4 linked regions of the Homo sapiens genome follow. The protein of the gene in region 4 purifies or fractionates together with the protein of the main gene of each other region. This does not show direct contact. Each region holds a gene or a part of one and is shown on either strand. Other genes may lie near its edges. The genes, in order: SDHA, ZNF146, ANXA5 and SUCLG2.

Evidence for each region.
Region 1: the proteins of SUCLG2 (region 4) and SDHA fractionate together in Homo sapiens (co-fractionation; 3 studies listed by BioGRID, with this or other methods). This does not show direct contact.
Region 2: the proteins of SUCLG2 (region 4) and ZNF146 purify together in Homo sapiens (affinity purification with mass spectrometry; 3 studies listed by BioGRID and IntAct, with this or other methods). This does not show direct contact.
Region 3: the proteins of SUCLG2 (region 4) and ANXA5 purify together in Homo sapiens (affinity purification with mass spectrometry; 2 studies listed by BioGRID, with this or other methods). This does not show direct contact.

What each region holds. Positions count from the first base shown.
Region 1 is NC_000005.10:249,294-256,319, reverse strand, and holds part of SDHA (succinate dehydrogenase [ubiquinone] flavoprotein subunit, mitochondrial), read right to left. Parts: intron 5,329-7,026; coding exon 5,217-5,328; intron 4,983-5,216; coding exon 4,852-4,982; intron 1,928-4,851; coding exon 1,814-1,927; intron 1-1,813. UniProt on the Homo sapiens protein: Flavoprotein (FP) subunit of succinate dehydrogenase (SDH) that is involved in complex II of the mitochondrial electron transport chain and is responsible for transferring electrons from succinate to ubiquinone (coenzyme Q).
Region 2 is NC_000019.10:36,211,180-36,218,131, reverse strand, and holds the start of ZNF146 (zinc finger protein OZF), read right to left. Parts: upstream 3,027-6,952; 5' UTR 2,936-3,026; intron 11-2,935; 5' UTR 1-10.
Region 3 is NC_000004.12:121,672,961-121,679,986, forward strand, and holds part of ANXA5 (annexin A5), read right to left. Parts: exon of another isoform or gene 5,535-7,026; coding exon 5,455-5,534; intron 4,991-5,454; coding exon 4,934-4,990; intron 1-4,933. UniProt on the Homo sapiens protein: This protein is an anticoagulant protein that acts as an indirect inhibitor of the thromboplastin-specific complex, which is involved in the blood coagulation cascade.
Region 4 is NC_000003.12:67,651,589-67,659,177, forward strand, and holds the start of SUCLG2 (succinate--CoA ligase [GDP-forming] subunit beta, mitochondrial isoform 2 precursor), read right to left. Parts: upstream 3,025-7,589; 5' UTR 2,999-3,024; coding exon 2,915-2,998; intron 1-2,914. UniProt on the Homo sapiens protein: GTP-specific succinyl-CoA synthetase functions in the citric acid cycle (TCA), coupling the hydrolysis of succinyl-CoA to the synthesis of GTP and thus represents the only step of substrate-level phosphorylation in the TCA.

The sequences.
Region 1 (7,026 bases), on a different chromosome or scaffold from region 4:
TCAGTGGTAAGTTAAGCACAAAAATGTACAAAAAGCCATCTCTTGTGTTCCTTTTGAAAAATTTTAACTATAAAAGTAGATTTATGGCATGTGAACTTTAAGATTCTCAGTGCTTTACAAAAATGCTCCCATCATGTAAAGTGGGAGAACCCTTGTCTATACCAAGACACTTTATGTTTAAACCATCTACTTCCAGTTTTTCTACTTCAAAGTAAATATTTATATAGGTTGAACATCCCTAATCCAAAAATCTGAAATTCTCTAAAATCTGAAACTTTCTGAGCACCAGCATGACATTCAAAAGAAATGTGCTATGGAGTCAGATCTTCCGATTAGGGATGCTCAGACAGTAAGTATAATGCAAATATTCCAAAGTCTGAACAAGCCTGAAATCCACAACGCTTCTGGTCCCAAGGATTTCAGAGAAGGAATACTCAAGCTGTGTATTAAATATGCACACACAGGAAAAGGTAGGCACATATACAAAGAAATTTAAACCATAATGGGTCGTCTCTGGTTAGTGAGCTCTTATTTCAATCTCTTTGTACTTTCTAAAATGAGTATGTATTTCTTGAAAAATCACTAAAACTGGCTGGGGGTGTTGGTTCATGCCTGTTGGGAGGCCAAGACAGGTGGATCACTTGAGCGCAGGAGTTCAAGACTAGCCTGGGCAACGTGGAGAAACCCCATCTCTACAAAACATATAAAAATTAGCCAGGCATGGTGCCATGTGCCCAGGAAGCTGAGGTGGGAGGATCACCTGAGCCTGGGGGAGGTTGAGGCTGCAGTGAGACGAGATCAAGCCAACACATATCAGCCTGGGCAACAGAGATGAGACTCTATCTCAGAAAAACAAAAAAAAACCAAAAAACCCGAACCCGGAAACATTAAAAATAGACTTGTGCTAAGCGAGTGAAGTGTGATTTCTATACACTATCAAGAAATGGCCTTCATGAGAAGTCCTGAAAATGACCTACTGCCTGAATCACAGACACACTAGATGATAGTGAGAGTCCAAAGGTAACTTCCACAGACACAGCTAAGTGATTATACGACTCTTACAAGCTATGAAAAGTTTAAGGGTAAAAGCTTTCTATCTTCATTATTTCTGAATCTTAATGCCCAGCGGAAATGCCACACAGGTGAACTGTGCTTGTGTGGAACAAGGCTGCGACCCCCCTACCACACCCTCGGCTGGCTGTTCCCAGGACGCTGCTCACCGTGTGTGGAAAAAGGCTGCGACCCCCTACCACACCCTCGGCTGGCTGTTCCCAGGACACTGCTCACCCCAACCCCACCTCCATTTCTGCCCTTCTCTGCTTGCTCAGTGCCCAGGGGATGCTAAAGGCTGCACCACATCCCCTCAGCTCCCCTGCAGACGCTTCCAGTTGGCCCAGCCCGTGGGAGGAGAGGGGAGGTGTCTCTTCTGGGCTCCCTTAACGTGGGACTGGTTTCTGGTAATGGCTGTGTGTCCCCACCCCACAGATGCTTTCTCGCTAGGTCCACAATCATCATCTCCTCCCCTACCACCAGGCCTTGGACACTTGCTCCTGCCCAGTGACGTCCATCTGGCGCACACCACGGAGCAACCCTTCCTTAAGGCTCCTCTGAACCACCTGCAGGAACTGGATTCTGTTTCCAGCCCGAAGCCCGACTGCTGTCGGAGTGCCTTTTTCAGCGGTGCCTCGAATCTGTCGGGAGTTGATTTAAATCTGGCCTGCTCTTCCCCGTTCACCATCAGCAAGGCCAGCCCGCAGGCCTGGGCGGGGCCGTGTGGGTGCTGGGCTGTGGTGAGAACGAGCTCCACACTGACCTTCCCAGTGCCAACGTCCACATAGGACAGGGTGTGCTTCCTCCAGTGCTCCTCAAAGGGCTTCTTCTGTTGCCCCTGGATGGGCTTGGAGTAATCGTACTCATCAATCCGCACCTGAGGCCAGAAACACCATCACGTTTCTTATTACTCTAACAGAGCAATACAGAAAAAACACAGCAGACATTAACATGATCTAAGAGACAGATGCCCTAGAACTCATTCCATTTCCACTTCAGCCCAGGAGGTTGGCACCATCAACATGTTCAGAACCCACGGAGGCCGCATGGCTGGCCAGGGGGTGTGCAGCCAGCAGTGAGTCCACAGTAATCCATGTCCGCATGTTCCCTTAAGCATCCTTTATGTACCTAAGAGTTTATCAAATACTTTGTCTTTTTGCTCCATGTGCTGGGAGACTACCTCAATCTTTTCTTTCAGCCTGTTTTTATTAAAAAAAAATTTTTTTTTTGAGACAGGGTCTGGCTATGTCACCTGGGCTGGAGTGCAGTGGTGTGATCACAGCTTGCCGGAGCCTTGACTTCCCAGGCTCAATCAATCCTCCTGCCTCAGCCTCCTGTGCTACCACCACACCTGGCTCATTTTTTATGTTTTTGTAGAGACACGTTTCGCCATGTTGCCCAGGCTGGTCTACAACTCTGGGGCTCAAGTCATTGGCCTGCCTCAGCCTCCCAAATGCTGGGATTACAGGTGTGAGGCACTGCACCTGGCTTCTATTCTAATTAAAACTGACTGTGACCAACTAAATTTATGCACTGGCCAGGCACAGTGGCTCATGCCTGTAACCCTAGCACTTTGGGAGGCCGAGGTGGGTGGTTCACTTGAGGTCAGGAGTTCGAGACCAGCCCGGCCAATATGGTGAAACCCCATCTCTACTGAAAATACAAAATTAGGCATGGTGGCAGTGTGTCTGTAATCCCAGCTGCTTGGGAGGCTGAGGCAGGAGAATCACTTGAACCCGGGAGGCAGAGGTTGCAGTGAGCTGAGATCACGCCACTGCACTCCAGCCTGGGGGACAGTGAGATTCCTTCTCAAAAAAATAAAAATAAAAATAATAAATTTACTATTATTCTGTATTCTGGCAAACACGGATTCATATACTTTGCAGGAAACTCTTAATACATACAAGGAGACAAGAGCAAGTTCTGAGCAGTGATCACAGCCATCAGCATATTCTAGTGGAGGGTAAATCAGTAAAATTTCATGGTGAATAAAAATGATTTTCCCATTCACCATGTTCAGCTGACTGGAAAGGCTGCCACCAGCCGCCTACACACGGTCCTGAACCAGCCTGTGCGCCTGCCTTGTGGAGCCTTTGTCCTTTTGCTGATGTGGTTTATCCTGAACTTGCATTTGCATCCCAAGCTTCCCTTTCCGTCGTTTTTTGCTATCATATGGGAAAAACTCTTACCAGGCAGAATCCAACACGTGCGCTCTGCACAAAAATCAGTTCATCTGAAGAACAAGTGACCACAGGGCAGGCTCTATAATACCTTTTCCAAACCACAGGACAGGTCTGAAATGGTGGCTTACTCCTTATTTAATAAACTGGCATTTCCTCCACAGCGCAGGTCTGAAATGGTGACTTACTCATTAATAAACTGGCATTTCATCCACAGGGCAGGTCTGAAACAGTGACTTACTTGTTAATAAACTGGCATTTTCCTCCACAGGGCAGGTCTGAAACGGTGGCTTACTCGTTAATAAACTGGCATTTCCTCCACAGGGCAGGTATGAAACGGTGACTTACTCGTTATTTAATAAACTGGCATTTCCTCCACAGGGCAGGCTTGAAACGGTGACTTACTCATTATTTAATAAACTGGCACTTCCTCCACAGGGCAGGTTTGAAACGGTGGCTTACTCGTTAATAAACTGGCATTTCCTCCACAGGACAGGCTTAAAACGGTGACTTACTCGTTACTAAACTGGCATTTCCTCCACAGGGCAGGTTTGAAACGGTGACTTACTCGTTAATAAACTGGCATTTCCTCCACAGGGCAGGTTTGAAATGGTGGCTTACTCGTTATTTAATAAACTGGCATTTCCTCCACAGGGCAGGCTTGAAACGGTGGCTTACTCGTTATTTAATAAACTGGCATTTCCTCCACAGGGCAGGCTTGAAATGGTGGCTTACTCCTTATTTAATAAACGGGCATTTCCTCCACAGGGCAGGCTTGAAACGGTGGCTTACTCGTTATTTAATAAACGGGCATTTCCTCCACAGGGCAGGCTTGAAACGGTGGCTTACTCCTTATTTAATAAACTGGCATTTCCTTCACAGGGCAGGTTTGAAACGGTGGCTTATTCGTTAATAAACTGGCATTTCCTCCACAGGACAGGTTTGAAACAGTGACTTACTCGTTAATAAACTGGCATTTCCTCCACAGGGCAGGTTTGAAACAGTGGCTTACTCGTTATTTAATAAACTGGCATTTCCACCACAGGGCAGGTCTGAAACGGTGGCTTACTCGTTATTTAATAAACTGGCATTTCCTCCACAGGGCAGGCTTGAAACGGTGGCTTACTCGTTATTTAATAAACTGGCATTTCCTCCACAGGGCAGGTTTGAAACGGTGGCTTACTCGTTATTTAATAAACTGGCATTTCCTCCACAGGGCAGGTTTGAAACGGTGGCTTACTCGTTATTTAATAAACTGGCATTTCCTCCACAGGGCAGGCTTGAAATGATGGCTTACTCGTTATTTAATAAACTGGCATTTATTTCCTGGTCTTGCCACTCTAGCTGCACTTCTAACCTTGGCCTTCTAACAGCAAAGCACATTGGCTTGGAGATGCCACTGCTGGCATCAGTGGATGCCGACCCAAAGCAAGGAAAAGGTCACAGTGATCCAGAAGATGGCGAGAACCCAGGGATCAAAGTTACCAGGGGGGAAAAAGGCATTTTTTGGATTTACTTTTGGGGCAACGAAAGAAAATGCAGAGAAAATGCAGGGGTGGGGCTGAGTCCCACCAGGTGGCAGGAAAAGGCAGGTGCAGGTGGGCGTGGTGAGAAGGCCCACCTTGTAGTCTTCCCTGGCATGCGCGCCCCGTGACTCCTTCCGTGCCTCTGCTCCGTAGATGGTCTGCAGCGCACACAGCATCAGGTTCTGCAGCTCCAGGGTCTCCACCAGGTCCGTGTTCCAGACCATTCCTGGGGACACAAAAAGTTCCATCAGGGGCAGGCGGGACCCAGTCACATGGGCCCTCCGAGCTGTCAGCCTGGGCCTGCTAGTCCATGGAGTCACTGGTTGTGGCTTTATAGCTGTGGGCCAGGACCCATCCAGACAGCAAGCACGGAACTAAGTCAGCACTGACGGGACAGACACCAGCCCACCCTGCAGAAGGAAGGGCCCAACAGTGTGCACAGAGCCCACTGTCTGCTCACCCCGGTCGAACGTCTTCAGGTGCTTTAGGTCTCCATAGAGCTTGCTGATTTTCCCACAACCTTCTTGCAACACGCTTCCCACACGGAACACGGCAGCATGATTTTGCATTGACTGTGGCACAAAATATTATTTGTAAACTTTTAATCCATAGAAGCAGCCATACCAAGAACTGCTTAACTTTTAGACCTGTTGTTTTGCATTTCACTTAAAAGTTACATAAATTAAACAGAAAAATTAGGAAATTCAGACTATGAGTTTATTACTCCAAACTTAAAAATGAAGTTTTGACTAAAGCTTCTGAATAAATAAATGTTTCTATTACATACACATCTTAGACCCACACACATCCTTTCCAGCAGGATACAGCCAGGGTCCAGGACTCCAAGCAGACTGCCTGTGAGGCACCATGTTCCATACAGCTCCACGGCCAACCAGGCAGCGCTGCCTCTCCACACCCCTGGCGGGACTCCTGACGCGGGGTCTGGTGGTGAACGTGACACAAGCCAGCAGCCCTGTGGTGATACACACTAGGAGGAGCTGAGCAGAGCCCTGGTGATGGTGGTGTTGGAGCTGCACGTCTTCAAGGAGAGGGAGGGGCGTGGGTGGCTGGGGCCCTTGGCCCATCTGGCTACTGTCTTCTGCCTATCTTGTAGAAGCTCCTTGTACACTGAGTTCCTTCATAGTTTTACTGTGATGAGAGACGTGCTATGCAGTGGACCTGAAGTTTACTGTAGGTATGCTGGGAACTAGGCGTCAGCTTTTGCTTCCTGTGGGACAGGCACCACCTCAGTGATCCCTCCTCCTCCTTGCTTCTCCCTCTAACTGTGCTTTGCTCCACTGACCCTAATTTTCTCTTCCTCTACCAATGCACCTTCATGGTTTAATTTGGACATTTCATCTGATTTTCCTTAGACTCATACATAATCGTAACACTGTAATGCACATCAACCTAATGGTTTTTCAGGAAGAACAAATGAAAAACATTGCATCTCAGAATCTAGTATTACATTCTTTCATGTCCATTAGCAGCCACATGTTTTCATATCCTTTTTTTCGTATTTCTGGTTACATTATTTCAGGGCATTTTCAATTTTTTTTGAAATGTGAATGAGATATTTACTGATGTCTGAGCAGACTACTGCTGGCACATTGTAAAGCTACTGATTTTTAGATACAAATCTCTTATCCAGACACCTTACTACATTCTTGTTTTGTTTCTGTTAGTTTTTCAGTTTATTCCCTGGGAATTGTTTGGAAATTCTATCTGTAAATAATGACAATTGTATCTATTCCTTTTCAATATTTACTGCTGAGACCAGCTCGGTTGTGGAGACCCTAACCCAGCGGTGCTGGAGGAATTAAAGACACACACACAGAAATACAGCATGTGAAGTGGGAAATCAGGGGTCTTACAGCCTTCAGAGCTGAGAGCCTTGAACAGAGATTTACCCACATATTTATTGACAGCAAGCCAGTGATAAGATTTACTAAAAGTATTCCTTACGGGAAACAAAAGGATGGGCTCTGGCTAGTTATCTGCAGCAGGAAAATGTCCTTAAGGCACAGATCGCTCATGCTATTGTTTGTGGTTTAAGAATGCCTTAAACGGTTTTCCACCCTGGGTGGGCCAGGTGTCCCTTGCCCTCATTCCAGTAAACCGACAACCTTCCAGCGTGGGCATCATGGCCATCAAGAGCATGTCAGAGTGCTGCAGAGATTTTGTTTATGGCCAGTTTTGGGGACAGTTTATGGCCACATTGGGGGGCCTGTTCCCAACGTGTCCCCTTTATTTGTTTTGCAAAGTGATAA
Region 2 (6,952 bases), on a different chromosome or scaffold from region 4:
CTATGTCTTCCTTTAATTTAAAAAAAAAAAAAAAAAAATTAGCTCATGCCTGTAATCCCAGTACTTTGGGAGGCTGAGGCAGGCAGATCACATGAGGTCAGGAGTTCGAGACCAGCCTGGTCACCATGGTGAAACCCCGTCTCTACTAAAAATACAAAGCCTTTGCCCTGTCTATTCCAGTACCCCCACCCCAACAGCCAGTTTTATTATTTCGTATGTATCTTTTGAATTTTTTTTTTTTTTTTTGAGATGGAGTTTCACTCTCGTTGCCCAGGTTGGAGTGCAATGGCGCAATCTCTGTTCACTGCAACCTCCGCCTCCCGGGTTCAAGCAATTATCTTGCCTCAGCCTCCCAAGTAGCTGGGATTAACAGGCATGTGCCGCCACGCCTGGCTAATTTTGTATTTTTAGTAGAGACGGGGTTTCTCCATGTTGGTCACGCTGGTCTCAAACTCCTGACCTCAGGTGATCCGCCTGCGTTGGCCTCCCAAAGTGCTGGGATTATAAATACATATTCTTATTACCCCTTTTCTTATTCCAAATGCATCGTGTATCATACTCTACATTCTGCACCTTGCTTTCTCTCAGTTAACAATACATTTTGAAGTTATTTCTGTCTCAGTATATAAAGAGCTTCCTCCTCATTCTTTTGTACAGCTATGTATTATTTTGTTGTATCGATGTACACCAATCTCCCACTGATGGGCATGAACTGTTTTTCTTTTCTTTCTTCTCTCTCTCTCCTTTCTTTCTTTCTTAAGACAGGGTCGGCCAGGCACCGTGGTTCATGCCTGTAATCCTAGCACTTTGGGAAGCCGAGGCGGGCCGATCACTTGAGGTCAAGAGTTCAAGACCAGCCTGGCCAACATGGTAAAACCCTGTCTCTACTAAAAATACAAAAAAAGTAGCCGGGTGTGGTGGCAGGCAACTAATCCCAGCTACTCGGGAGGCTGAGCCAAGAGAATCGCTTGAACCTGGGGGGCAGAGGTTGCAGGGAGCAGAGATTGGGCCACTGCACTCTAGACTGGGCAAGAGAGAGAGACTCCATCTCAAAAAAAAAAAAAAAAAAAAAAAAAGACAGGGACTGGCTGTCCACCAAGCTGGAATGCTGTCGCCAGGATCTCTGCTCACTGCAGCCTTGACCTCCTAGGCTCAAGTGATCCTCCCACCTCAGCCTCCCAAGCAGCTAGGACTACGGGAGATCTCACTATGTCGCCCAAGCTGGTCTCTAACTCCTGGACTCTAGCCATCCTCCTGCCTTGGCTCACAGGTGTGAGCCACCAAGCCCGGCCTGAGGCTTTATATTTAAAATGTGTTGGGTCCCCATCTCCCCACACCTCAACGCCTTTTCTTTCTCAGTCTGTACTGGCTCTTGCAGCTTGTCTCTTTCCATAGTAAGTCTAGGATCAGTTCCCCTAGTTCCAAAAGAGAAAAGCCTGTCCATACTTTTATTAGGATCACATTATTACTATTATTGAGACGGAATCTCGCTCTTGTCCAGGCTGGAGTGCAGTGGCGAGATCTGGGCTCACTGCAACCTCCGCCTCCCAGGTTCAAGCGATTTTCCTGCCTCAGCCTCCGCGGTAGCTCAGATTACAGGCGCCCGCCACCACGCCCGGCTAATTTTTGTATTTTTTTATTTTATTTTTTTTTAGTAGAGACAGGGTTTCACCATGTTGGCCAGGCTCCTCTCGAACTCCTGATCTCAGGTAATCCACCCATCTCGGCCTCCCAAAGTGCTAGGATTACAGGCATGAGCCACCGCACCCGACCAAGATCACAGTAAATTAATACATTCACTTAAGTTTGCGCACACTTCTTAATGTCACATGGTATATTTATTTGTTCACATTTGTTATGCCCCTTAGTAGTATTTTAAAGTTCTTTCCTAATAGTTCTGAACCTTTAAGTTTCTTCCACAATACTTTATCTTTTTACTGCTATTGTAAATATTAGTTTTCTTCAACTATGTATTCTAACTGATATTTGTAAATTAGAAGGCTATTTATTTATAGATATTAACTTGGTACCCAATTACTTTATTTAACTTTTTGTAATTTAAAACTATGTCAATGACGACAGCGGGGGCGGGGTGATTTCCTTAGAAAACGCATCTTTGGAGACGTCAGTAGCATTCTCCATTACTTCACAAAATCCATACAACCTGAGAACGCCTCGACTCATTAAGGAATTAAGACACCTAGGATTTAGTCCAGACTCATAGATAAACACTGCAACAATTAAGCTTTCTTCAAAAAATGAGGATAACTGTGCCTAACCTAAAACCGTTGACTCCCTCATCCTGGGCGCCGTTATATGGGATTGCTTCTCAAAGCGTACAATGCTGTTTAGTCTAGGGCTTTGCTTAACAGCCCTATTTAAGTACCCCAAAGATGGGGATTTGAATAGTCTGAAGTAGGCACCCCGAAACTAAAGTTCCTTCGAAACACTCTCGTTTAATTAAAAAAAAAAGTCACGGTGATTTGCATGCCACTCCAATTAAAAAGAAATGCTTTTATATAAAAACTCGTTTTAAAATTATTCACCACTTAGCTTTTCCACCCCTTCAATTTTCAAGTAAAAAAGACGCTCCAGGAAGATGGCACCGTTATAATTATCAGCACTTTCGACAAGGGAAGTGCAGCTCAAACGTTATACCTCAATGCTGGTCTCCTACATCTCCCTCTTAGGCACAATCACACACAATCCCGCACCCAGTTTCACATTCACTCAACAATCCCAAACATCAGGTCAAACTTTGAGGACAAACTCGGTCACACTCGCTCAAACCCGCCTCAGAGGCCCCCATCTCCGCCCCGCACGTAGGCCAGAAGCTCTTACACCCACTCCCTGCCCTCGCGCCGCGCCCCTAAAGATCAGGAATCCTCCCCTTTAACCTCCCCGGTCCGACCGACCCGAGACGCCCAGATCCCACCTCCTACTTTCGCGCCACGTGGACCCAGGGGCCGTACTGACCCGCGGACAAAGACCAAAATGTCCACTCGGTGCGCTGCGCTTGCGCACTCGGAGAGCGAGGAAGCACTCCCAGAAGTCTCCGCGACGCGGCCCGCCTCGGTCACCGCGGCCAGGCCCAGGCTGGTACTGAATTACCTTCTATTACCAGCAACGTCGCTTCTCAGGCCTTGGACTACATTTCCCTTGAGGCTTTACTGGTCGACTCTCTGTCTCCTCCCCTCCCCCCGCGAACTTGGCCGCCTCCTTCTGTGACGATGGAGCTCTTGAGGTAAGTAGTCCTTTAGCGTCAGATGACTTCAAGCTTGCTGGAAGGTCTGGAGTGGCGACGCCCTCTCCGAAGACTCGTGGGCGCAAAAATGTCAAAACGAGCCAGGCCCCGACTCAGAGATAAGAGAACGCCATTCTGTCCGTGGCCGATCTAGCTCTGGACTACAATTCCCAGAGCCCACAGCGGCCTGACGTTACGTCGTTCTTGACGTCGTGGCGAGCTAGTTAGCTCCGCAAGGACCCGGACGCGACCAGGGGAGGCAGAAGGTGAGGGGTCTGGGAGTCCTGGGCGGGGCCGGGGCGTGTCCGGAGCCTCGAATCTGTGCGCGCAGGCGGGAGCTGGCTGCGGATGCGCCGTTCTGAATGTGTCTTTGTGGCTGTGTGGCTGGGTGTGGGTGTCTGCAACTGTGCACGTGTAACCGCCTGTCTCCAGGGTGTCTGGTGGTTTTTGTGTAACCATGTGTGATAGAGAGTATCGGGGTGCAGGGTCCTTGTGACCGGGGGTGATACTGCGTGTGTCCCCGTTGTATATGTGGCCTGTTCGCCCTGTTCCTGGGGTGTGAGTACAGTTGTGACTGTGTGACCACTGCGGGTGTGCGGTTGTGATTCATGTCTCCAAGGTGTGTGCGTGGTTTTGGTTGTGTGACACTGTGGCCGTGTGCAATTGCCTGTGCCTGTGACTGTGTGGTGACGCCGCTTGTGTATTCCTGTATCCCTTGGTGTGTGTGTTTGTGTGTATGTGTGTGGTGCTGTGTATGCGGGAGTGGGGTGCCACTGCTTGTGTGGGTTGCTTGTGTGAGTGTGACTGTGTGTATGTCCACAGTGAAAGTTCAGTTGTGACTGGGTGCCGTAAAGTACCAGTGATGGCGTGTGTCCCCTGAGTGGGTGTGTGACTGTGACTATATGAGGCATTTGTGGGTGTTGGTGTGTGGGGCTTGTGACTATACGGGAGTAACTGTATCACAGTGGAGAGTAGATTGTGTGACTGGGTGTGTCTTAGCGGGTGTGTGATTGTGACTGGAAAGATATTGTGACTGGAAAGGTATAGAGGTGTCTGTGATTGTGTCCTGTGTCTCAGGAGTGGATGTAGGGCCGGGTGTGGTGGCTCACATCAGCCCTTTGGGAGGCCGAGGTGGGAGGATCACTTGAGCCCAGGAGTTCGAGACCAGCCTGGCCTGTACAAAAAAAAAAAAAAAAAATTAATGGCTGGCACGGTGGCTCACACCTGTAATCCCAGCACTTTGGGAGGCCGAGGCGGGTGGATCACCTGAGGTCAGGAGTTCTAGACCAGCCTGGCCAACACGATAAAACCCTGTCTCTACTAAAAATACAAAAATTAGCTGGGCGTGGTGGCAGGTGCCTGTAATCCCAGCTGCTCAGGGGGCTGAGGCAGGAGAATCGCTTGAACCCAGGAGGCAGAGGTTGCAGTGAGCCGAGATCGCGCCATCGCACTCCAGCCTGGGGGACAAGAGCGAGACTTCGTCTCAAAAACAAACAAACAAAAAATTAAAAATTATCTGAGTGTGGTGGCCCACACCTGTGGTCCCAGCTACCCGGGAAGCTGAGGTGGGAGGATCTCGAGCTTGAGAGGTCAAGGCTGCAGTGAGCCGTGTTTGAACCACTGCATTCCAGTCTAGGTGACAGAGCGAGACCCTGTCTCAAAAAAATAAAAGAGTGGATGTGTGGTTATGTTTGTGTGACACTGACTGTATGTGCAGCACCAAGTGTGCCAGTGACTCTAGTGCTTGACCCATGCAGAACCTTTGAAGTTAGGACAGATTCTGGCCCTGGACAGGAGTGACCTCAGCCTTCTGAGTGACACTGGATTTAGGCAGATGCCTGGTGTTCTGTGACCACACTTCCCTATATGGTAGGTAAGGAGGATGGTGGTTCAAAAATGACCTGGTTGTTCATGATTCCTTGCTCTTAACCCTTCTCCAAGAAAGGTGCCAAGTTCAAGTACATCAGGTTTTATTCTTATTTCTCTGAAATCCTTCTTGTTTTTCAGGACATGCTTTTCTTTCCTTCTTCTGAAACTTCAGAACCACCCCACCACCACCCTCACCCCTACCAAAGTAACCTGGTCTCCAGTATTTGCCATAGGAGTAATTTACTGCGTGCCTTGGAGATGGACTGAAAGGCCTATATCCTCCCTGCTCCCTGCATACCTAATGTTCTTTTAAATTTTTTTCTTTACTTTTCATTTTGAATTTAAGACTTTAAAATGTAGCAACAATAGAATTCCCATTTGCTCTTTTTTTTTTTTTGAGACGGAGTCCTGCTCTGTCACCCATGCTGGAGTGCAGTGCTGTGATCTCAGCTCACTGCAACCTCCACCTCGCAGGCTCAAGCGATTCTCCTGCGTCAGCCTCCTGAGAAGCTGAGATTACAGACAAATGCCATCGTGCCCAGCTGATTTTTTGTAATTTTAGTAGAGACGGGGGGAGGGGGGTTTCACCATGTTGGCCAGACTGGTCTCGAACTCCTGGCCTCAAGTGATCCTCCTCCCTCAGCATCCCAAAGTGCTGGGTTAGAGATGTGAACCACCATGTCTGGTCTCCATTTTCCTTTTTGTAACTCCTTTGACACGCCTAGCCAATTTTTTGTATTTTTAGTAGAGACAGGGTTTCACCATGTTGGCCATTTGTTTTGTAGAGTCTGCAGTGTAGAATGTTCCTCTCTTTGGAATTGTCTGATATTTCCTGTTGATTAAATTCAGATTCTGCCTTTGGGGCAAGAATACTCCGAAAGCGATGTACCCTTCTCGGCGCATCATGCCAGGGACCCACGAGGTCAATTCGTTACACTATGAGTGGTATTAATTTTAACCGCTTGGTTAAGACGGTGATTGCCAGATTTCTCTGCTGCAAAGTCACTGTTTTTCCCATTATAATTGATACATGTCTTGTGAAGAAATACTTTAAGCCTATGTGAATATCCCGTTTCTTATCCTCCTTTCATCTATTAGTCTTATCCGTTGATGACGCTTGCCTGAAAAAGTTGTTACCAGCTATTTGTCAAATGGTGGGGTTTTGGGGTTTGTTTCCATCATCACTTCTATGTTTATTTTTTCTTCTTTTTTTTTTTGTTTTTTTTGAGACAGAGTCTTGCTCTGTCACCCAGGCTGGAGTGCAGTGGCGCGAGCTCGGCTCACTGCAAGCTCCGCCTCCCTGGTTCATGCGATTCTCCTGCCTCAGCCTCCCGAGTAGTTGGGACTACAGGTGCCTGCCACCGCGCCTGGCTAATTTTTTGTATTTTTAGTAGAGATGGGGTTTCACCGTGTTAGCCAGGATGGTCTCGATCTCCTAACCTCGTGATCCACCCACCTTGGCCTCCCAAAGTACTGGGATTACAGGCGTGAGCCACCGCGCCCGGCCACTTCTATGTTTATTAATTAGAATTGTGTGTGTGTGTGTGTGTGTGTGTGTGTGTGTGTGTGAGAGAGAGTTGGAGTTTGGCTCTTGTTGCCCAGGCTGGGAATGCAGTGACATGATCTCAGCTCACTGCAGCCTCTGCCTCCTGGATTCAAGCGATTCTCCTGCCTCAGCCTCCCAAGTTTCTGGGATTACAGGCACACACCACCACGCCCGGCTAATAATTGTATTTTTAGTAGAGATGGGATTTCACCATGTTGGACAGGCTGGTCTCGAACTCCTGATCTCAGGTGATCTGCCCACCTTGGCCTCCCAAAATGCTGGGATTATAGGCG
Region 3 (7,026 bases), on a different chromosome or scaffold from region 4:
TGTTGATACATCCATGTATAGACTGGGAAAGGATTTAACTGGAAGCTAAGTTGTCTGCCTTTTCTGTTTTGCTTGTTCTATAGCTGTTCAATAGCACATGAGTAAAAGTACACTTCATATTTTCTCTTTACAACTGAGATTTAACCAAGGCTAGCTATAAAATGTTTTCATATTTCCAAAGATCACAATAAATTTTTAAAAGATTGTGGGTATAGCACAGTGCCTGGCATATAGAAGCACTCAATAAGTAGTGGTTGAATAGTTTGAGTGCCCATACTTCCTTTTTGACATGGGGAAAAAATATGCTTTCTTGTGCACGTATAGCTGCCTAAAAAAATAAGCTTATATACAAACATCAACGTTAACTCTGAATCCACTTATTGACGTGAGAATAATTTATTAAAACCCAAAGAATCAACCTTTACAATGACTGTACTATCCTTTTATTCATTTCAAACTAAGTCTACATATTAAAGCAAGATGAATGCAATTTGCTGAGGCTGCTACTTGCAGTTGGCCTTATACCCACAAGCAGCAATCCAAATAAAGACAGGAAGTGATAATAACAGGCTTGAATATAGAAGTTTTGATCACAGTATATTTAAAAATGTAGATTATGGTGGTAAAGATCTATTTTTTATTATATTTCTGGAGAATAAGAAAAAAATGAGACTCATGTATCTTTATGCTCAATTTTAAAATTAATTATTTTAAAGATAAAAATGAATAATATCAATTCTGGCCATGTGAACATGCTCTTAAAACCTGAAAAGACAGTAACTCTGAAAGTCATGCATGCATCTAAACTTTAGAACTATATCATGATGACACAGACCTTTCTTAAAATAACTTTTAAAATTTAATTACAAAAACAACGCAAGTTCATTGAGAAATTTTATAAAACTAAGAAAGAACAAAAATAAGAAAATAGAAGTTGCAGGCTAGGCATAGTGGCTCATGCCTGTAATCCCAGCATTTTGGGACGCTGAGGCAGGTGGATCGCTTGAGCCCAGGAGTTCAAGACCAGCCTGGGCAACCTGTCAAAACCTGTCTCTACTAAAAATACAAAACTTATCCAGGCACGGTGGCAGATGCCTGTAATCCCAGCTACCCGGGAGGCTGTGGCAAGAGAATTGTTTGAACCCAGGAGGCAGAGGTTGCAGTGAGCCTAGATCATGGCACTGCACTCCAGCCTGGGCACGAAGGAAAGGAAAGGGGAAGAGGGAGGGGAGGGGAGGGGAGGGAGAGGGGCGGAAAGGAGAAGGGAGGGGAGGGAGAGGGGAGGGGAGGGAGAGGGGATAGGAAGGAGAAGGGAGGGGAAGGAAAGGGGAGGGTAAGGAAATGGGAGGGGAAGGAAAGGTGAAGGAAAGAAAAGGAAAAAGGAGAAAGGGGAAAGAGAAAGGAAAGAAAAGAAAAGTTGCTATTTAATATCAATTTCCTGAGGGTGCTAGTTACTACTTCTGGTATGTTTCTACATGTAGATAAAATATACAAATACATTAACACCTAAATGGGTAAAGGACTCATCTTGTACAATATCACAGACATTGATGCACACACTTCTTATCAACTGTTTTAAATGTCTAGAAATGTTCTCTAGTAGGTACAGGAGTTAAGCCTGTTATATGGGAATAATTGGTGAGATGTCAGTTATTTTTACCACAATGTTTTAATTTTCTTGGGAGAATTATGTTTGGGATCAATATCTACTGTAAAACTATTATTAAGTAATCATATGCAATAATAATGATGGCTTCTTCATGTAAAACAATGATATTTAACAGTTTTGTTTTAATCTAAGTATCCTTTCTCCTAAATGAGGATGCCCAATATTCATGGATCCATCTGGATGAGGGACCCTTACACCCCTTCCCTAAGCTTTACGGTTCAGCCTGAGTACAGTTTCATAAGCCCTGGTTCAGTGCAAAGGATGAGTCTTTGGAGTCAAAACAGATGTGGTCTATCTGCAAGATCTCAGATGAACTACTTAATCTCCTCTTCAGCCTCAGTGTATATAGTCATTAACGGAGATTATATAACTAAGATAATGCACTGAACAGTGTCAGGTAATCAGTAGCAAATGCCCAGTAAAAGTAAAAAGTGCCTGATTACTTCTCCTTCTCCCTCTTTCCTCTAAGAGTTCAACTCTCCCTCCAGAGAAAGAATAAAACAAGGATTTACTGGGGAAGAAGGTAAATCTGTTTTAATGCATTAAAAGTATTAAATCAATTTAACACATTAAAAATGTTAAAAAGTGGATTATCTACAAAACGTTCAGTTCCCAAGTGAATGACTCACTATGGCTTATCAAACCTCTCAAATAATAGAAATCTTCTTAGTGCCAGGTATCAGTAGAGACAAAAATGCAAAAGCTTATAAAAGAGCCCTTTAGCTGTCTCAGCTTACTCTCAATTAAGAAATCTCAAATTCTCACTAGTGATAACAGTCCAGCTGCCCTTGCTACGAGGTACAAGTTGGTGTGTTCCTTTTTATAATGCCAAAAGATTATTTGTTTTCAACAGGTTTATTAATTAATAATAATACATTTGAAAGAATCAAAAATAATAGCCAGTGTAACATGTTCTGTATTGCTCCTAGTCACTGGAAGGCTAAGAAAAGCTTGGATTCCATTCAAGGGATACTTTAAAGTAACTCCATAAAGCAGTTTTCACATGTACAGTCTCACATGTACTCTCAGGGTTCTGAATGGTTATATCCACTGCATGACACGTAAGTGTCACCTATACAGCCTCAGTAATCAAAGGACCAAGAATGCAGGCATTACCTGAGAGCATGTTCAAAATCCAGACTCCCAGCCCCTGCCCAGACCCATAGAATCAGAATCTGCAATTAAAGGTCCCAGGTGCGCCACATGCCCATGAAAGTTTGAGCAGCAGTGCTATCCAGTAAGTGCTCCAAGGACAGAAATCAATGAAAACAAGGTTAAAATGTACTGTTTTCCCCTCAGGAGCCTCGTGCTGCAGCAATGCTCTCATTACATCACCAACTATGCTGGGAAATCTGCCCTCTGCCTGTGAATGCAGGCCTCACTGCAGACATCTGAGAGGACTAGAGTTGGTTTCTTACACTGTGACCCTGAAAAGCTCCCAGAACTCCTATCCTACTCTTGACAGTAGGAATGAGAGAATCAGCACTATCTCCTAGCAAAGCCACAACCAATGCTTGGAAAGCAGTAAGATCACCTCAGTACTGAACAAAGCCCCTAACAGGAGTACAACTCTGTAGGGTTGCTCTAGCCCTCTTCCCGAAAGAAGGTGGAATTAAGCTAGATCTATGCTTGAGTTGATATTTAATAAGCCCTTTAATGATAGAGAAAATCAGGGAAGGCACTAATACTCAAGAACACTGAATATCTTACAGTGAAATATTCTTATAGTGAAATATTAATATTCAATAACACTGACTATCTTCTAGTGAAAGAGAAAGAGCTTTGGAGTCAGACAGGCCTCGTTAGGAATTCCAACTCCACTGCTATTCAGTGGAAGCCATGGGTTTGTTTCTTTATCCATAAAAGGGAAATTGCCCCTTTCTGGTAGAGTTATGTGCTCATTCATTCATCAGTTATTTACTGAGCACCTACTCTATGCCAGAAGCTGAGGATACAATTGAACTGACAGCTCAGGGGGCCCAGGAAGGCAGTGAAGTAAATAGATGGCTTCCAGAGAACGTGGCAAGAACTGTGACAGGAAGCCTGGGGGCGGGGGGGGGTATGGTTTTCCCTGTGAGGGGCACCTAACTCTAAAGTATCTAAGCTGAAGACTGACTCTTGAAGAGGACTCAGGTGAAGCGGGGTGGGAGGGGCAAGAGGGCAGAGAGAGCATGTGAGAGAGGCTGGAGGCATAAGTAAACAACACACAGATAACAAAGGGGCTTGTAACCCATTCAGGAACCCGGACTTTATCCTGAGGGCAATGGAACCACCAGAGTCTGAAGGGGCTGGACACAATTGGCTTGCATTTTCTAAGACAGAGTGAAGCAAGAGTCAAATACTGCACAGAGAGCCCTCGGTAAACATTCAGTTCTTTTTTTCTCTCCAGCTAGACAGAGATGACAGCATTCTGAAACCATTATAAAATCAACCTACCCAAAAGAATAACCGCTCTCCTCTTTCCTGTTAGCAAAGTGAGATCGCATATCCATGGGTTGTTCCACTGGAGGAATGAATATGGCTCTTCCTTTTTCAATGATACATGACAAACAACCAAGAATTGTATATTCTCTTAATTGAAACATGTGACCAGAAAGAGGTCTATGATTGGTGGTTCTAGGAACCCAAGTAATTCCTTTATTACCAATTTCCAGTTTTCAGCTCTCATGTTTCAAATTTCCTTTCCTATATTTTAATAACTGTTTTATTAACCAGACTGAGACTTTATAGGGGTTTATAAGTCACTTAAGAGGAAATTTTCATTTGGAGTCACTAAAAAGCTGCTGACAGAAGACCAATCCTACTTAAAATTCTGTCGAAGGAAATGCAGAGAAATTTCCTAATACCAAAATAACTTGTCATCTCTTATGTAATTAAACACCACTTACTGTTAAATACTTTATTCTTTCTTCTTTATCTTCTCCTGCTAAGAGACCCACTGCATAATTGGCAGTGGAAGTAATAACACTGTTTTTTGGTAAAATTCTCTATTTTGTGAATGTTCAATAATCACAAAAAAAAACATGTCTAGTTGGAACTCACTATATAATTTATTTTATTTCGTTTCAGCTTTAAGGTAAAATATTTTGCTGACCAGGTCAGAATAAGAAAAAGCTACTTATGTAGGTCTTATGCTATGTAAATAACCCATTAACAAGATTATCACTAGAAGCTATTACAACATACATTGTGATTTTTCATTACCATGAATTATTTCTTCATTTCTACAGCATAATAAAGTCATCATATCCTGGTGTCACTCACCTGAGCATCTTGTTCAACTTGAGCTTCATCAATTCCAGCATCAGGGTCTCTGTTAGCCTATGAGAGGTAATATGTCACATTACTGAACTATAGAGCATTCTCATTCAAAAGGAAAAATGGTTCCACCTGATGGTTATTCAATAACACTCTTTCTCTAGGAATAATATGCTTTTATTAAGATCAATCCTGCACTATTTCACGTTATCATCACCCAGCACTGTCCAAAACCAATAATGACCCTACTGATTTTAAATTCTATGAAAGAACAAGATACCGCTATCATTCTATGAAAGGAACAAGATACTACTATCTAAAACATGTATGAGTTAGCTGTTAAGAATTTAGACCAGATATTCTGAAACACAAACAAGCACAGGCAACATACAGTCAGAATCATCGCAGTAAGAATCAGCAAGTACCACAAATTATTAAAAGAATTTTAAGTGACCTTACTTAACTAGATTCAGCCCAGTCCAACTTCAGGCTTTTTAATCAAACTGTAATTAATCTCCACGCAATACCTGAAGGAGAACCACCAACATCCGCTGGTAGTACCCTGAAGTGTCCCCCACCACGTCATCTTCCAGGCTTGAGCCATATTCTGCAACAAAATAATTTCATACTTATTTACATCTTCTTTCAACTAGAAAAGTAATCTTGCCCCATTAATCAAATGAAAGCGATGTAAAAGAAGAAATAATTATATTTGGTTAACATAAATTCCCTCTATTCCATCTCTGAATGCTCTAAGCAAATGCTTTCAGTGAGTGGTTGGACAAAAATGAATTAAAGTCTCCCAAAGGCACTCAATTCAAACTTAAATCAAGACTCAGCCATTTAGAAATTCTCTCGACCAATGTAGTCATTAATCTATAGATACATGATGGTACTGGAAAGTCTCCAAAACACAATCAATCATAAGCTTAAACTCTGTTTTGCTTTCTTTCAAATCTTTTATATGGTTAGCTTCCAAATGTCTTCTATCTCTAATATTCTGAGATTTATTTCTTTGGGCATGGCCATCACTCCTAATAAGGTATTTTTCCTCTGCAGAAATAAAGTTAACTCTTGAGAGACAGCAATGATATTTTAAAGTAGGCCCCCCTCCCACCTCTATTTCCAGCTGCTCAATGTAAGCCCATATAAAAGGGGAGAACTGGGATCTACAAGAGTCTACAAGTCTTTCTCACTACTCTCAAACAGATGCTATTAAAGGAAAGGAGGCCTTACTCTAAGGTATTTAAATATTTAATTATTATGCAAAAGCAAACGAACTTTAAAAGCCTGAAACTTCTATTTTAAAAGGCCCAGAAGAGTTACATGTTTATTTCAACAAGTTACCCAAATACAAAACCTTGTAGGAATCTTTAATTCTTTCTTCTACACCAACACCTGTAAATATTAACCATTAAATCCTATCACGTTTCTCCTGTCCCTGATTTATCCTCCTCACACCTCTCACTCACCTAGGTTGGGCCACAATTCCTAAATACCTAGCTTACCTCCCACACACATAACTATCCAATTAGCCTCTCAATTCAAATCTCCTTCCTCCCTCAATTGTTCCTTCAGCACTCCACTGCTCATTCAGGAATTTACAGTGCCTGTGAATTAAGTCCAAATTCCTAATCCAGTCATGCAAAACCATCTATATCTGAGCCTAACCTCGCTTGTTCCATTTACCTCCCACAATGGACATGCACACATCCTCCACAGCAGCCAGGCCCTCTCCGTCCCTCAATACACTCTCCACAGTCCAGTCTCCATGCCATTAAAGACAGGCAGTACCTCACCCAAAAATATCTTTTCTACCTACTCAAAATGCACCTAGTCTTTTTTTCCCAGCTTTATTGAGTTATGATGGACAAATAAAAATTGTATATATTTAAGGTATACACCATGATGTTTTCATATATGTGTACGTTGTGAAATGATTACCACAATCAAGTTAATCAGCATATCCATCACTTCATATAGTCTATATTTTTGTGTGTGGTGAGGACATTTAAAATATACTGTATTCACAAATTTCAAGCATATAATAGTTATACTTTCACTATAGTCACCACGCTGTTCATGAGATCCCCAGAACT
Region 4 (7,589 bases):
TGGTGACCCTTTGTAGGGTGGAGGTAGTGACAGGCAGGAGCACCAGGGGGCCTCTGGGTTGTTGTTAAATGATCGTTTTCTTCATCTGTACCTAGTTAGCTGGGTTTGCATTCAGTTTATGAAAATTCATCAAGTTGTTCATTTGTAATTGTTCATTTTTCAGTATGTCTTATATTTCAGTTTAAAAAATTATGCCAATCAAAAACACACCATATCAAATAGGTCTCCTCTGATCATCCAGTCTAAACTACCCTGCTGTGAAGCAATCCATTCTCCATCCCATGACCCTGACTGATTTTCTTCACAGAATCTGTCATTGGCTGAAATCATTTTCATTATTGGTTATATGTGTACTGGCTCACTCTCTCCCACCTCCATTAAAATAAAGTATCACGTGGCCAAAGACTCTGCCTGCCTCATTCACCATCCCCAAACCCCAGGGCCTACAACAGTCCTGCCAAATGGTATGGGCTGAATAAAAACTATATGAAAAATAAGAAATGACTAAAGTGGACCCTTTAAGGACGTACTATCAATCAAAAGTCAAAACAGTAAAGCTAACAGCAAAGGTGAAAAAAAAAAAAAAACTTCAATGACACTAAGCATCAGGAATATGTGTCAAATGTTAAATTTAACCATAGGGAGGAGGTAGACAAAATGTCATTCTATGGGTATCTTTGAGAGACCAGTTAAAGTTATTTCTCTAAGCAGAAACTGGGTCTTTTATTTCTGTACAGACAACAGTTTTTCACAAGGCCTGGTGGTATAAAATAGGTCTGGGCCAAGAGTGGCAACAGATTTCTGAGACACTTGGTGAGGATTCTTAAGTATGATGAGAGAAGTGGGCCATGTTTAACTGCAATGTCTGCCACGGGCAAGGGACTATGGAAACGTAATATCAAATCAGTGTACATGAAACAGATCATAGGAAGCACCCAAGAATTTGAAAATAGCAATACTCACCATTTTTATGGACAATTCTAAGATGGTCATAAAGAAAAAAATAAAAATGTGTCAGTGGTGCTAATGACTTGGATGTTATATAGTTACTACTGGCATGCAGATTAATTTGCATGTTGATATAATATATTTTCATGAGGAAGTATATACTCACCAGGAAACAGCATGGTGTAACGGAAACGTAAAGGTAAGCCTTTACTCTGGAATGCCACAAACTCTCACTGTATCGTTGAATATGTCATTGAACTTCTTTAGGCCTCAATTTCTCTACCCATGAAATGAGCTGGCTGGACTAAATGATTGCTAATGTCCATTTCCAGTTCTTGGACACTGTGTACCTTTCTATCTTTAAAAAAACCTACTTTTACCTTCTAAGAATTTACAGAAAAACACATCATCCACAAATATGTAAATCACAGTAACCAGATGGGGCGTGCTAACAGATCTTTTTACCCAGTTTTCTTGACAAACCAAGAGTATCTCTCCCCAACCAGATTTTCTCCTGTGTTGCGTTCAGCCTCTTATTTCTTGGTTAGGGAAGTAGGCTTCACATATTTCAGCTAAACACTCTGCATTTTCAGTTTCTCTGTACAATTCATGAGTTTTCACTGCCCTGGGCCCCATGTTTCTCATCAATTCAAGTCTACACTCATGGTAAGCACCCTAGTTCTTGTTTTTTCTAACACTTAAATAATGAATAGGACTTCATCTCCTAGAGCTATTCTCCTTACTCTATTACAACAGTTATTAGTGAGTTTTAATTAGACAAAACTGCCATTCCTTTTGCTACCTCACTATACTGTCAAGCACCTATTAAGAATATTACAGTAGTAAGTATTAGCACCTTTTAAATTTACATTAACAATAACAGAGAAATGGGGAGGCAGGAAATGAAAGGAGAGGGGTAAAAATAGCTCACAGATGTCATAACCAAAGTTTAGAGGAACTCAAAAAATCATTAATCACTATTTTTTAAATTTTCTAAAAAACTATACTATGCACATCCTGGTTAAAATTGTATGAGTGATAATTTGCCTCTCATCAATTAAAAATGGGGAAATAGGCAAGGTCATTAACTCTGCTGTGGCTGAATCCCAGACTGTGCTTTCTTTAAAAGGGAAGAGAGATAGTCTACGGAGACTAACCAGTTCAGTGGTTGAGTGATTTCTACAAGAGTCATCACCAACTCAAAACTTTCCTGAAGTCCTTCTGACTATTTTAACGCTTGCCATCTGCAGAAGGTAAAAATCTGCTAGAGGCCAAGTTCCAATCGCTATCCAGCCCACCACTGACCCTCTTTGATTTCATTCTCCATCAACAAGGAGGACATGGACAGGGTCAATGGTCTAATGCGTTTTAGTGACAGCCCTGATTTTTCATTGGAAAGAGGAGAAAGATCGTTTCCCATTTTTCTCCTTGACCCACGGATTTGACCAACTCAGGCACATTAAAAGTCTGCAAAAGCAGGTAGCCTGCAGGAAGTTCACCCTAGGGGGTGAGTTCCTAGTTGGGCTGAAACGGGTTTCCAGGCATGTTTATCACGTGGTCTAAACGTGCTCAGGGTTAGTGCCAGAAGTTTGAAAAGCAGAATTAGTAGAGCTGACAATAAAACCTCAGGGCTCCAAAACCCGGTCCAAGAAACTTTTCTTAAACTTGCGTCCAGCGCCTGCTTCAGCGCCTTCGCCATGAGTCTGCGCGGGCAGACAGCGGAGACTCTAGTGCGTTGGGTCGCTCATACCCCGAGGCACCCGGGGCTGCCGCCGCGCCGCCCCTGCCCCACACTGGAGCGGGGTTCCCTGCTGCGCCTGGACCCGGCGCCGCGTCACCTCCCGAAGTGGGGCGCCCGAGGGGCCGCGCAGGGGGTCAGGCGGAGACCAAGAGTAGCAGGGGGCGAGGGAAGCCCGGGCAGGCCGGCGCCGCTGCTGGCGCCCGCAGCTCCTGCCCCCACGCTCACCTGGGACCCGGCCGCCAGGAAGCGGGGCCGCAGCGCTAGGGCTCGCAGAAGCTTCCCGGCCTGCGCTGCTACGGGGGACGCCATCTTAAACAGGAAACTCGGCACGGGGCAGTAGGGCGGGCGCGGGCAGGGGAAGGAGGCGGAGGAGGAGCAGCGGGAGGAGGGGTCAGAGGAGAAGCGGGCGCGGGGAGGAAAAGGAGGAGGAGGCAGAGGCGGTCTGGGCCGGGCCGGGCCTGACCCCTGCGTCCCGGGGGCACAGGCGTTCTTAAGGCTGCAGAGCCCTGGGTCCCCCACCCGGCCCCGGTTCACTTTGAGCGGTCCCAAGGCCTGAGGGCCTACTGTCCAGTCCCCAGGTTATCGTCCTGAGCAAAGACAGACCCCGAGCCCTGCGGTCTTGGGGCTCAAACAGTCCCTGGATGGCCAAACAAGCAAATATTCGCCATGGCAGTGGGTGCTGGAAGGGTGGCTCACGGAGCTGACGCCCTCCGCAGAGAACCGTGGTCTAGTCCTGCGGTCACGAGGCCTATCTGGGACAGTGGTGTTTGAGCTGAGACTTTAACGAATAGAGACAGGTGAGGTTCCTGCAGCCCAGGGCTTCAGGTGAGTCAAGGAGAGGCCATTGGAGGCTCTCCATCCCTTAAGGAGTTGTGGGTGTTTTGTTTTGTTCTATCCTTAACCTAAAATCAATGTAAAGCTGAGAGATGAAGCCGGGTGGGTCGGTTGGGGACTTGGAGAACTTCTCTGTCTAGCTAAATGATTGTAAATGCACCAATCAGCGCTCTGTGTCTAGCTAAAGGTTTGTAAATACACCAGCCAGCCCTCTGTGTCTAGCTAATCAGGTGGGGACTTGGAGAACTTTTCTGTTAGCTAAAGGATTGTAAATGCACCAATCAGTGCTCTGTGTCTGGCTAAAGGTTTGTAAACACACCAATCGGCACTCTGTAAAAACGCACCAATCAGCGCTCTGTGTCTAGCTAAACGTTTGTAAATGCACCAATCAGCACTCTTTAAAAAGGGACCAATCAGCACTCTGTAAAATGGACCAATTGGCACTCTGTAAAATGGACCAATCAGCAGGATGAGGGTGGGGCCAAATAAGGGAATAAAAGCTGGACACCGGCGCCAGTAGTGGCCCCTAGTTGGGGTCTCCTTCCAGGTTGTGGTTGCTTTGTGCTTTTGCTTTTTGCAGTAGCTCTTGCTGCTGTTCACTGTTTGGGTCCGCACTATCCTTATGAGCTATAACACTCACCACAAAGGTTTGCAGTTTCACTCCTGAGGTCAGGGAGACTGCGAACCCACTGGGAGGAATGAACAACTCCGTATGCCCCACCTTCGAGGGCTGTAACACTCACTGCAAAGGTCTGCAGCTTCATTCGTGAAGTCAGCGAGACCACGAACCCACAGGCAGGAACAAACAACTCCGGACGGGCCACCTTTAAGAGCTGTAACACTCACTGTGAAGTCTGCGGCTTCACTCCTGAAGTCAGCGAGACCACGAACCCACCGGAAGGAAGAAACCCCAGATACATTTGAACATCTGCAGGAACAAATTCTGGTCACGCCATCTTTACCGCGAGGGTCTGCAGTTTCATTCTGGAAGTCAGCGAGACGATTAAGAACCCACGGGAAGGAACCAATTCCGGACACAAAGCTATTGGAGGATTTTAAGCCCAGTAATCAGAGTGATAAAAGCAACATTCATTTGGAGCTGTGAACCCCAAATACCTGACACAGGTCTCAATCAATTTAAGAAGTTTATTTGGCCACAGTTAAGGACACGTGCCTGTGACACAGCCTCAGGAGGTCCTGACATGTGCCCAAGGTGTGGTGGAGGACACAGCTTGGTTTTATACATTTTAGGGAGATATGAGACATCAATATATGTAAAATGTACATTGGTTTGGTCCAGAAAAGCGAGACAACTGGAAGCAAGGAGGGGCTTCTAGGTTATGGGTAGATAAGACACAAAGGGTTGCATTCTTTTGGGTTTCTGATTGGCCTTTCCAAAGGAAGCAATCAGCTGTGCGTCTATCTCTGTGAGCAGAGGGATGACTTTGAATAGAATGGGAGGCAGGTTTGCCCTAAGCAGTTCCCACCTTAACTTTTCCCTTTACCTTAGTGATTTGGGAGTCCCAAGATTATTTCCCTTTCACAGAGTTTACGCGAGTCTAAGCAATGTGCATATAATAAAAACAACAGCAAAGTTACTGAATGTGTGCCAAGCATTAGACAAATATAAACTTGTTTAGTCTTCATAGCAAAGTTTTAAATGAGTAGAAGTGTACAATCCCCATTTTGCAGAAGAGAAAACTGAGGTGCACAGAGGTTAAGTAACTTGCCAGAGGTGGCAGGTCTGATAAGAGATGAGATTCACATCCCTTCCACCCACCCCCAAATTAAGCACTATTTTAGATTTTTTTTTTTAACCTTACTCATTCTTGAGCATATGATCATGAAAAAAGGTACAATGTGACATAAGTAGACAGCTGTTGCTACTAGCTTCTTTCCTAATCTCTCTCTTTGGAAAGTGGGGGAGCTGAGGATTTTTATTTTAATATAATTTCTAGCCCATTTCGAGACATAGTTTTACCCACTAGATGTAGCATCTTTTGATGATAAGGATGATGATGATTGTTTAAATCAATTATTGTCACGATGGTGGCAAAGTGGCAAGGTCTAACTCCATCCTACATTTATTAGTCTGTATTCTACTCAGAAAAACTGCACTCTTTCCATCATCTCCATTGATGAAAGAAAAACTTCAGCTAAATTAAATGTAAAGGAGTTTAATTGAGCAATGAACGGTTCGCCAATCGGGCAGCTCCCAGAATCACAGTGGATTCACAGAGACTCCAGCGCAGCCACGTGGTGGAAGAAGATTTATAGAGGAAAAAAGGGAAATGACTTACAGAAATCAGAAGTGAGGTACAGAACAGCTGGATTGGTTACAGCTTGGCATTTGCCTTACACAGTTTGAACACTCAGCAATGTATAAATGGTTAAAATATGGCCACTGGGATTGCCAAGACTTAGCTGTTGTTTTAGGTCCATACTTCTAAGTTAGGTTTTCAATCTTGTCTACCTATTAAGCTAGGTTGCAGTTCGTCCACAAGGACTCAAATATAGAAGTACCGAGTCCTCCTTAGGCCATATTTAGTTCACTGTAACACTATTCGTCGGTGAATTGTTTTATTCACTTGTATCACTGTGGACTCATGGATTCTTTTTTATTAAATGGCAAACCGATGCTCTTTCCTGATACATACACTCTGCTGCCTCTGTTTTCAGTCATTTAATCTTCACAGGAGCCCTGCAAATGGGGTCCTACTATTATTCCCATTTTGCCAGAGAGAAACTTGGCCACAGAGTTCCACATGACATTTACATGACTCTAAGGTCAAGTAACTTGCCAAGGGTGACACAGCTTGGGATCAAATTTCCCAAAGCTGGACTCCAATCACTCTTAGCACCCTCCTCTTGACAAAACTGGATTTGAGTTTCCATATTGTTCATCATTACCCCTACTGGGTCCGCCGGGATAGAGCAAAGACTTGCTAATGTTTGAGAGTGAACGTTTAAACTTGGTGAGAGCTTGTGAACATTTTGCCAAAAGGAGGAAGACCACCTATAGAATTAATCAAAGGCTGTTTATTCAGACGTTACTATGCTAAGGGAGTTGGCTACTATCACTTTCCTTCCAAATGAGACTAGAAGTCGTTTGAAAGAAGTGTTAGTTTTATAGAGATAAAGGAGAGACTCTTAAGACTGTCTTTGATTGATGAGTGTTCTTTTAAGATGCGATTATTCTATTATGGGGGGATTTTTGAAAGTGGAGTCGGGAGAGGCTTTCTGATTGTCATCCAAGTACATTTGGTATTCTTTGATTTGTTTACTATCTACTGGTGCGTAACTTGGGGTCTTTCCAGGGTTAGCAGCCTCCTAAGAGTTTTCCTGTCTGAATTGGAAGACTGTCTCATCCTTGGTTCTGGGGTCCAAATCTTTCATCAGCAATTCCTCAGTGTCTTTACTCGTATTATCTCATTCTGCCTTCTCTGCAGGAAGGTGGTAGGGGAGAAGGGACAGAAGGAAGAAAGAGAACCATTTATGTAGCACCTCCAGTGTCTAGCACTGGACTTTGATTAGAAAAAGTAATCAATAAACATATGTGGAATGAATTGCATTATAGAGTTCCTCGTAAGATTTCTCCCTATTTCATACTCCCCGCTTCCACCCTCCAACCTCCCCCAAATAGGAATCTCTTTGAGAACAGGGAATCTAGATTCTACCAGAGTTCTGCACTGTGCTTTCCTGGAACAAGCATTAAGTTTTCAGCCAAACTGGATTGGATTCAAATCTGACCTCCACCCCCTTGAACACCTGTGACTAGGAAAATACCTGGTTCATAGGGTAGTAGTAAGTAGTCAATGATCAGATGTTGCATGTAAAGACCTTGCACATAGTAAAGACTTCATAGATGTTCTTTTTCTTCCTCTAGTGGGTCCATAACAAATATTTGCTTGATATCAAATGTGAAACACTAGGGCCAATCTGAGATGTAGGTTAGGAGACCCCTGACACTTTGTAATTTATCTTGATAGCACTGGAGAATTACAGAGATGTACAAATGCCAGACAAAAGTATTAAGAGTCTAAAGTGGTTGCCTCCAAGAAGAGGA